2 separate regions of the Homo sapiens genome follow, and region 2 is linked to region 1. The links come from fine-mapping of genetic effects on gene expression. A gene starts in region 1. The other region holds a variant in brackets. All regions are shown on one strand. Distances are between the middles of the regions.

What was found. PIP is the estimated chance that this variant, and not a neighbour inherited with it, causes the effect.
Region 2: its variant is fine-mapped to the expression of ZNF667-AS1 in left ventricle (GTEx, PIP 0.99).

What each region holds. Positions count from the first base shown.
Region 1 is chr19:56,475,242-56,480,615 of GRCh38, reverse strand. ZNF667-AS1 (ZNF667 antisense RNA 1) reads right to left here and starts at 2,742. Exons shown (of 2, transcript NR_036521.1): 1 at 2,235-2,742. It overlaps ZNF667 (zinc finger protein 667), which reads left to right and starts at 3,271. Exons shown (of 7, transcript NM_001321356.2): 1 at 3,271-3,344.
Region 2 is chr19:56,565,975-56,571,348 of GRCh38, reverse strand. ZNF470-DT (ZNF470 divergent transcript) reads left to right here and starts at 3,328. Exons shown (of 2, transcript XM_047439806.1): 1 at 3,328-4,276. The coding sequence starts at 3,328. The coding sequence ends at 4,266. It overlaps ZNF470 (zinc finger protein 470), which reads right to left and starts at 3,881. Exons shown (of 6, transcript NM_001001668.4): 1 at 3,311-3,881; 2 at 2,466-2,591; 3 at 978-1,069. The coding sequence starts at 1,037. RefSeq lists enhancers at 3,442-3,551, 3,932-4,141, 4,152-4,201. The variant TG/G (reference allele first, on the strand shown) is at 2,788.

The DNA.
Region 1 (5,374 bases):
ACAAAAGATTCATGTGAGAGGGGAACCTGTTAACAAGCTGAGCCTCTTTATCTCCCCATTCTCTGTCTAGGGATAATTCCTCAACTACAGTGGACAGAGCTGGAATCTGAGCCAAGCGGAGCAGTCATGCTGAGTTCAGGAAGCCTCACTGCTAAATGCCACCTATCAAAGTGGCCTCCCCTGACCATCCTGTGTAAAATAATCCCTCCTTCCTCTCTAGACTTTCTAGCGTCTTTACCCTACTTTTTTTTTTTTTTTTTTTTTTTTTAACAAATTAAATCTTGGGCTGGGCGTGGTGGCTCACGCCTGTAATCCCAGCACTTTGGGAGGCTGAAGCGGGCAGATCACGAAGTCAGGAGAGTGAAACCATCATGGCTAACAAGGTGAAACCCCGTGTCTACTAAAAGTACAAAAAAATTAGCTGGGTGTGGTGATGGACACTCGCAGTCCCAGCTACTCGGGAGGCTGAGGCAGAAGAATGGCCTGAACCCAGGAGGCGGAGCTTGCAGTGAGCAGAGATCACGCCACTGCACTCCAGCCTGGGCGACAGAGCAAGACACTGTCTCAAAAAAAAAAAAAAAAGATTCCAGATACTCTGGAGCTGTCATAGGATCAGGTATTTAATTTATGCCTGTAATTCCCATGGGTTCCTGGGGCAGGGGGGGAAGTGGTGGGGAGTCCTGAGGTGAGAGTGAGGGAAGGTCTGACCAAATCCAAGACCAGGACTAGATTCTGGACCTGGGCTCTGGGACAAACTGTCTTAGAAAACTCATGGGTGTCTTGGGAGATAGTTGCTTTATTCGGAGAATGGGCACAACAGAGCCTGATCAGGAGCCAAGACATCCGACCCACACACTCTGGTTTCTCTGAACTAGGACAGTCTGAGGCATAAAGCTTTTTCCCAGATTTTCGCACTAACATGCCCCTAAAACAGCAGAAAGGATGACATACTTTCTTGGGAGGTGGTTTAAAGAAAACAAAGAAACTGCCAAGTGACAGATTTATCCTAAGATTTCTTGGATCTCTTGACCACACCCCTTATTCTAGTATTACCAGGTATTTAGAACAATCTCCAGTCTAGAAAGAAACTTGCTCCAAGGAACAACTCAGAGAACGGCTTACAGGATTAAAGAAAACCTTAAATGGAAAAATTCACTTTTGACCAGGGACAACAATCAGTAAGTGCTAGCTGCTAGTCACAGAGGTAATGGTAAAAGTCCTAATAGTAGTATCTGTTAGCTTTTATTTTTATTATTGCTACTACCTAATCACAGAAATGGGAAACCAAAACTAGTTCCTCACACATTCTCCCTACTACCTAGTCCCCAAAACTTGCTCAGAGTCACCTGGGAAGAAAGAAATCACAGGCCCTGGGTTCCCCTCACACATATACCCACCTATGCAACTACAAAAACTGGGTCTCAACACACAGGCGGGTACACACACACAGAGTCAAAAACACTGGCTTTCCTTGGCCGGTCGCGGTGGCTCACGCCTGTAATCCCAGCACTTTGGGAGGCCGAGGCGGGCGGATCACGAGGTCAAGAGCCCACATGGTGAAACCCCGAATCTACTAAAAATACAAAAAACTTAGCCGGGCGTGGTGGCGGGCGCCTGTAGTCCCAGCTACTAGGGAGGATGAGGCAGAAGAATGGCTTGAACCTGGAGGCGGAGGTTGCAGTGAGCCGAGATCGCGCCACTGCACTCCAGCCTGGGCGACAGAGCGAGACTCCGTCCCAAATCAATCAATCAATCAATCAATCACTGGCTTCCCACACACACACAACACTCATCCACAAAAACTGGCTACGGCTCGAAACCTTAGTCGGATAGTATTTTAGGCTTTATGGGCCACAAGATCTCTGCTGCAAGTACTGAACCCTGCCATTGTGCAAAAGCAGTCATAGAATAGACGTAAATATACACAAGTATACATATTCAAAATGTGTGGTTCCCCACAGAGACGTACACACCGCAAAAACTGGGCTCTAGAGTCAACAGTAAATAGTTCAGGCTTTGTGGGGCCACACAGTACCTGTTCCCACCTACTCAACTCTGCCCTTCCGCAGAAGTGGATGCAGAAGCTAAACAAATGTCCAGAACATACACACATATTCAAAATCAGTGCCCCCCGCCACGTACAAAACCACAAAAATCGCCTCAGAGACACACGTATAAGAAAACACAAAGGTTCGTCCTCACACATGTTCAGGGTAACACAATGTGGGTCTCACCTACACAAACGCGCGATCAAAACCCGGGACCCGCACGCCCAGATGACCGGGACGAGGCCATACTTCACATCTTCTCTCACAGACTCACAATTACGCAACGGTCACCTCAAACGACTTTATGGCGGACACTCCCGGACCTTCCGCTGTCCGCCCCTCCTCGTCCCTTCTCCCCGCCGGGGTGAGCCTCATCCACCCAGTCTCAACCCCGACGCAGTCAGTCTCACTGCCAGCCCGCCGGCTACGCAGGCGCAACACCGCATGGAACAGCCCCCAGGGCGTGCAGGGGCCGTTGGGAAATGTAGTCCGAGCGCCACGCAAAGGACTGTGGGCCTCTTCGCAAAACGTGCAGGTGAGTCCCCACTGTTGGCCAAAAGAAACATCCCTCCGCTGCTCTCCCGGGTCAGTTCATCTCCGACCCGGACAGAGCAGAACCAGCGCAGCCCAAGCCTTCTTCACCTCACGTTCTGGGTGGGACTTTCCACAGCCTCGCTGCACCCCGGTGGATTCTGGAGGTCGCAGGATGACTGCGTAGTGCGCACGCGCGGGTGGGCGGTGTCCGCCTCCGCGGGTGAGGCCGGCTCCAAACCTCGTGAATGTGGGGGCGAAGGACGCTGGCTGGCTGGAGGCAATAAGCCCTCACACGGGAACGTGTGGTTGTGGGAGCGGGGAAGGCGGCGAATTGGGGAGGTTGGGTTTGGTTAAAGAGCTCGAGGAAGGGCCTCAGTGTCCACACGTGATCTCCTGAGAGGATGAAAAGCAGGGCCAGGCGCCAGTCCCCTAGGAGACCGGTGTGCGTGCCAGCCTCGGGGGTGTGCGCAGGCGCGGGACCTCGCGCGTCCGCCTGCACCAATCGTGCGAACGCGCTTGTGCGTGTGGCGCTGAGGGGTCGGGGCCTCAGGCCGGGGCTGGTGGTACTGTCCCCGAGAGGCGGGTGAGCGCACGCCGCGTGGCCTTGTTTGGGGGCGGGGCCACGCGCCCGCATGCGTGGTGCGTGTGTGAAGGGGGGTGCAGCGCGCGGTCCCGGGGTCCCGGAGGGGAGTGCGCAGGCGCTGAGTCCCTGCTCGGCTGTCTCGGTGGTCGCCGCCGGGGTCTGAGCCCGGGAAGACCGAGGTAAGGGGGCTGGCGAGAGTGTGGGTGTGTCTGAGGGCGTGGGCGGCGCGCCCGCCACTGCGTGGACGTTCCTGCCAAGGCGCGCGTGGGTTTGCGCATCCACGATGGCGTGGGCGTCTGCGCGGGTGCTTGCGTGGGCGGTGGGCTCGCGCCTGCGTGGGTTCTCGGCCCGCCACGGCGTGGGGTTTGCGCCCTTCGCTGCTGTGGTTCTCGGGGCTTGTGCGCCCAAGTGTGAAGTTGGCGCCGCGTGTGAGGCGAGCCGTGTGTGCCTGTGTGTGAGGGAGCTATGTCGGGACCGCGGATGTGTATCGCTGCGTGACCCACGCGAAGGAAACAATGGAGCCATTGGGAAGCCGGGAGTGGGTGTGTGACGCTGACTGTGAAGATTTGTGTTTCTGGAGTGTGTGCGTGTGTCAGTGTCAGGCTGATGTGGGCGTTTATTGTAGCCTTGGGTTACTGTGTGACTTGCCTGGGCGTCTGTCTGCCACTTAGCGTCAGTGGCTTTGCGGTTATGAGTGTGTGACTGTGCCTTTCTGGTGTATATCTCACTGTAACCATGGAAATGGAGGCCCACAGGGGAAGAATTCTTAGCAGCTCTAAGATGTGATGGGCTGCCCTGGAAATCTGTGGAACTGTTTAATTGTGCATGACTTTCCTCCTTGGTAAAATAGCATATTAATAGCACCTGCCTGGGTGTTATTGGGAAGATTAAATGGGATGACGTAGCTGAAACACCCTGCACAGAGCTTGTCACATACTAATCACCGTGTTTAGGTGTTGGTTATGGTGCTGGTGGTCGTTTTTCTTTGACCCTATACAGAGGCAGAGGTAGTGGTGAATACTGGAGGACTTTGCATCTCTGAGCTTCGGACTGGGCTATCTTTGTCCACATACCAGGGCATCTGACCATCTCCAGTTGAGCAGTGGTGCGCTGCCCCCGCCAACCACCTGCGTCGTCAGTTTTCTGCATGTGTACATTTGAGTGGAGGACAGAGCCCTCCACTGACGCTAAGTATGGTTGTGTCCCCTTCCTACCAAGGTAGCTTGGAAAAATAAGAGCATGGACTGTGGCGCCCCGCTGTCTGGTGTTGACTCCTGGTTTCACCACTGGCTGGCTGTGTGACTGAGAGAGCTTACTTAAGTCCACCACTCCTCGGTTCACTTGTAAAACAGTAGTAATAACAGAACCAACCTCAGGTTTATGGTGAGCATAAGTAGAACTTGGCACAAGGAAGTGCCACATCAATGATCATCGTTTTATTATTAGCATAATAACCGCAGGCGTCCCACACCTGGAGAATAAAATCCATAGGTAGAAATGCAAAAGGATGAGCCCCAGAGTAAGGGTTGCAGGTCCAGAGGTAAAATAACTTGGACGTCTAGATCAGGGCTTAGGTTCAGAATTGTGTAGGCAGGGTCCTGGGAGGGCAGCATTAGGGTAGAGGAGGTGGGGTCAGGAACAAAGGATCTTCCTGATGGAGATGTCCCTAGGGAGCCCATGGGGTCAAGAACAGAACTTTGAAGTGTCAGGGACTAAGGGATGTTTCCATATAACACATGGGTCTGGAAATGTTTCTGTCCAGACCAGTGTTTCACAGCCTTGGCACTGTGACATTTGGGGCCAGATAGTTTTTTGTTGGGAGGTGGGAGGGGCTGCTATTCTATGTATTATAGGATGTTGTGCAGCAACCCTGGGCTCTATTTACCAGGCCAGTAGCACACCGCGCCTCCCTCTGGGTTGTGACAAGCGAAAAAAAAATGTCTCCAGACACTGTCAGATGTCCCCTGCAGGGGCAAAATCACTCTGATTGAGAGGACCGTGATGCAAGCGCATGGACAGACCGAAGGCATGATGACAGGGAGAAGAGTAAGGGAGCTGGGGAAGGCGGGGCACGGAGAGATGATAAAAGGATAGTGTTCTGAGATGAGAAGAAACGGCCTGCAGCCCGGGTAAGCTCCGAGATGCATTCATTCATTCAGCCAGTGAGTGCCTACCATGGATTGGGCACTGTGCTAGTCTCTCAACAAAA
Region 2 (5,374 bases), 91 kb before region 1:
ATAATCAGAGATGAGGGCAAAAATTCAACTACAAGAATAATTACTGCAACACTCTATTAACAGCAGATAATTGTCAACAATTTACCTACGGAACAACAAGGGACTGACTAAACAGATTATGGTATTCAACCTAGAAAGAAGAAAGGATGTAAAACATTCCTTGGCATTTTAAGATGTTCACGGCTCCATGGTCAAATGGGGAGAACAAACCTTTGCATACTCTGTTCAGAATGCCATCAATCCCATATGCCTGCACTTCCTCCATTTCATTCAAGGCGTAACTCAGGAATCACTTCCTCTGTGAAGTCCCCCCAACCCTTCCTGCCCTCAGCAGTGAGTAGGATGGTGCAGGCTATATCCTGCTCAAGGATCCCTCACCAAGGAGGCAGGAAGGAGCTAAAATACGGTAGACTTCCTCTTGCCATATTGTGCGGCCTGTTACAGAGCTTCATCAGTAGAGAGGAAGGGGCACTTTTTTTTCTAATTCACCCAAAGACATCATATGGGCTATTAATGGCCCTTCCCAAGTATTCCACTGTGAGTCTACTCTCTGCTTGCAGCACTTCTCACACTGCGTAAGTGTTTGCTGCCTTTTCATTTCTCCAGCAGATTATAACCTCTCTGAGAATCAGGACTGAGACTTAGGAACCAGGCATGGAAATTTCCTCTGAGGATTGTACTTCTGCTTTGTCAGATGCCTATGAAAAGACTGAGCACAAGGGAAGGGCTCAGACTGGGTCATTTCCTGAATGAAAAATAAACAATGAGCAGGAAGGAGAGAAGGAACCTCTGAGAGGGCACTGGGCTGTGTGAGTCTATCCCTCACTCACAACCCCATCACATATCAGAAAGGGAAGAAACAGGAAACAGGCCTCAGGGTGGAACTCTTAAGCACAATATTTTCAGAAGAAAACAAGTATTACCAAATCCAGAAAAGCAAAACTATTTTAGTGGGGAGAGGGGGAATACTAACTCACCAGGGACATGGCTTTACAAAGTTTAATTCCTGCCACCTCTACCTCTTCCTGGCTCTTCATTTGGAGAAGAGCTTTACTCTGGGATTGTAGAGCTGGGGAGAAAAAGAAGTAGTGAGAAACCAAGTAGCACTAATAATCAAAGTCTGAAAATGCTTTCTTCCCTTCAGCTTCTTCTGTCCTCACTCACAGTCCTCACTCCAACTCCCCCACCCCACAGTCCTGATGCTCTTTGGGAGACTTGAAATATATAGCTGGGGTTCCCCTCTGCTCTGGGTTTTCAGGATGAGCATAATATCTCTTGACCCCCTCTCCCCATCAGCCACCAATTCATTAACAACAGATTTATTAATACTAGCCTGTGTGTGTGTACATTTTTTTTTTCTAAGACAGGGACTCACTCTGTTGCCCAGGTTGGAGTACAGTGACGTGATCATAGCTCACTGTATCTTCAAACTCTGGGCTCAAGGGATCCTCCTGCTTAGGCCTCCTAAGTAGCTAAGATTACAGGCATGTGCCACCATGCCCAGCTAGTTTTTTTACTTTTGATAGAGATGGGGGTCTCACTATATTGCCCAATTGCTCACTATATTGCTTGAGGCCAGGAGGTGTCAACCTCCTGGAGTTAGGTATCTGGTCAACCTCCTGGCCTCAAGCAATCCTCCTGCCTTGGCTTCCCACAGTGCTGGGATTACAAGCATGAGCCACCATGTCTGTGCTGCATATATTAATACTGTCTTTAAATCTCCAAAATCTTCAAACAGAATCGGGTATATTGTCACCATTTTACACAAGAAAGCTCTGGGAAGTCAAGTCTTTTCCACAAGTCACACAAATTTGTAAATAACCTAGTCACCAACCTAGGTCTGGCTGACTCTATCACAGAAGTTATTTGCTCATATACCAGAAAATAACAGAAAATAAGTCCTCTGTGCAGTTGGCCAGGATTTGTGAACATTCTATAAGACAAATTCCATGGAGAATTCCATCTTTTCCAGAGAGAGGCATTCCTTTCGTTACAACAGAGTCCATGTGACTTGCAGACAACCAAATGAAAAAATCCTCATGAGGCCTAGGATCTCATTTTGTTTTGTGACAAACTACAGTGTTGAAGCAGTCCCTTGACTCCACTGAGCCATGTTTCCTTAATTAGGAAGGAAGAGGATAAAGTATCTGAATTAATTCTAGTTTCTTTCATCTAAATTCCACTGCCTTCTCAAAGGATTATCATAATGATGATAAAAATGAACACATTACATGGCAGGGACTATACCAAGTGCTTTACATGTATGAGGTCATTTAATCCTTATGACAGTACTGTGAGGTATATAATATTACCATCTCCATTTTACCTAAGAACTTAGAGTCATAAACTTTTTAAGAAAAAAACCCCAAACCTGCTCAGTGGAGGTTCTGGCATATGAACTATTTAGTTATTTAACCCTTTCAGAGTCAGTTTCTTTAATTGTCAAAAGTGGCTAAGAAACCTACCTGAGGCAGTAGTTGAGGAAACTACATGACAGCCAGTGACTCTGGAGTCAGCCTGTTCTGGATCTGAATCCCGGTTCTTCCACTTGCTAGTGATTACTTATCCTCTCTATGCTTCTGTGTCTTCATCTGTAAAAAAGAGGTAAGTAGTTCCTACTTCATAATGTTGTGAAGTTTGGTGCTGATACTCCCAAAAGGTCTTAGAACTGTGTCTGGCACATAATAAACACTCATTAAACATTAGCTATTACTATAGCATGCAGGAAACTAAACAAGCACAGAACAATATGGCTAAAAATAGCCCTTCCTCCCCCTTTCTCTTTAT[TG/G]GAGTGGGAGGCCAGAGGGGAGGGAGAGAAGCCCAAGGAATGGGGATATCTTCCGTTATTGACTAGAACGTGATTAAGCCATAGAAAGGCTGGAATGCCTCGGCATTTCTGGGTGAAGCTGTGAATCTCGCCTTCTTCCCAAATCCTACAGTGATAGATGGGACAAGGCTCTGACGGGTAAAAATCTAAATGCTGAGCTATTCCTTCAACAGCAGCAGAGTACCCAGAAGTAATGCTATAATGGGTAATATTACGGGTAGTGTTCTCTCCCATGGGCCCTTAGTGATATACCAAGGACCTGAGTCAGGTTATCTGGTTAGGTGTCTCTGGCCAAGTCAAGGTCCCTCCCTAACTAAACCCAGCTCCACTCTGACCCAAGGTGACCCTCCAAATCTTTCGACTTCCAGGTCCACTAGCCTTAGAAACGGGGGACATCCTCCTCCAGCACCTGAACCCCGAAAGACAGCACCCAAAACCTCAATGTCCACTCCGGCAGCCACATCCGTCATCTGTCACTCTTACCTGTGTACTCAGTCCCCATGGTCTTCGCTCCTCGCCGTCCTGTGGACATGGAGCCCTGTCCTGGGCTCTGCCCCTTCCAGATAGGGCTGACAGGAAATGCTTCAGCCGAGGCTGCCCCGCCCGGGCAACTTCCCCGGGCTCTAGGACTTTGCCCACACTGGGCTCTACGCAGTCGATACAGGGGAGAACGGGGTAAGCCTCCTCCGGCCGGGTTTCCTGCTCTTGGCCACTTAAAGTGCTTCACTCATTCCAACACACACCGCCTTCCGCACGCCGCCGGGCCATGCACGCAGGCGCAGATTCGCGGCCACGCACCGGACAGTCACACACCGGGCCGCCATCCCCGCGCGCGCTCGCCCCTCCTCAGCACAGCACCGCACGCTCACCACGTATGGGCACTCACAGCCACCAGGCCACACGCGCACGCTCACGCCCGCCGCCCACACAGGAACCAGGACACCGCCCCCGCCGCGCCCCAGTCCAGCCTCGGCCGCTGCCCCGCCCAGACCTCCCTTCTCCTCAGCAACCGGCGGGACGTGCACTCGCCCGGCTTTGGGTCCTTTCCGGAAGTGGGCGTGTCCTCCGCTGCAATAGCCCCTGGGAAGTGTAGTCCGGAACGGAGGCGGCGTTCAGAAATAGGGCGCTGGCTTTGCCAGGAGCGGCTCCTCTCCAAGCCTGGCGGTCACTGCCCTGTGTCCCCTTTTGGGCCTCTCCTGGTCCTCCTGGTTGGATTAGGAGGCCTCTCAGCCCGGAGTCTGGGTCGCCGAAGTACAGGCCCCTTCACTGAAGCGACCCACGGCGCAGGGGTTTCTGGAAGCCATCGCCAGGCTCCGAGTGTTCAGATGCAGCTGCCAGGCTCAGGACGCAGAGAACTGGCTTCCAGCTCGCAGGAGCGCCTGTCCGTGGTGGGTAGGGTCGCAGGCGTGGGGTGTGCAGGAGCAGTGGGACAGCACTGAAACGCAGTCGGTAAGGCGTAGCGGCTACCCTCTGGAGAGGAAAACCATGACAGGGCGGGGCTTGGGGCGCGGGCGGGGCCTACGCGATAGAAAAGTGAGGAGATTGGGATTTGTCTGCTTTGCACACTTGTGACTTTCTGATGGTGCGCGTGTGGAACCTGTTTTATTTCATGCCTACTAGTTACTGCTCTCTGATATACGGTACGCCCCTCACCTCCCCCCACCCCATTTTATCTCTCCCTGCTGGAAGGAGGGTTCCAAGAAGGCACACAGCTTCCGTCCTGTTCAGGGTTATATTCTCAGTGACTAAAACAGCACATAGTAGGTGCTTAGTTTTTTATTTTTATTTTATTTTTTAGGAAATCACGAAATCTAGCATTGCCAGTCTCACCATGACACAACATGTTATAGGCTGAATATGTCCTCCCAAAATTACTATGGTGAAACCCTAACCCCTAGTGTGATGACGTTAGGAGGTGGGACTTTGGGGAGGTAACTGGTTTTAGATTAGGTCATAAGGGTGATACCCTTATGATGGGGTCAGTGCACTTATTAAAAAAGAGGAAGGAGGGGTCTCCATGTTTACACAACCACCAAGCAAAGGCCATGTGAGGACACAGCAGGATGTAACCCATTTGCAAGCCAACGGGGCCCTCACCAAGAACTGAATGTGCCAGCACTTTAACTTCCCAGCCTCCAGAATTGTGAAAAATAAAGTCTCTTAGTCAAGTCACTTAGTCTATGATATTTTGTTATAGCAGCCCCAGCTGACCAAGATACAGCATCATAGATACTGGCTCACCAGAAACTAACTCACCCTCCCAGTCACACTCAATCACCCAAGGCCACACAGTGACATCTAGACTGGACTCTCCTGGATCCAATTTATGTCAGACATCATAAACAACATAATAAAGCCAAGTCTAGCTGTGAAGATACTTTAACTATGAAACAGCAAATATCATCTTAGAGCTTGTAACGTTTGTGGTTATTTGAGTTGGATGAAAATGATAATATTCTCATTTTAGCTCTGGCATATAAAGAGCTCGGAAGCCTTCATTCCCATCTTCACAACAACAAAATCATTCAACAAACTGAAAATCAACTT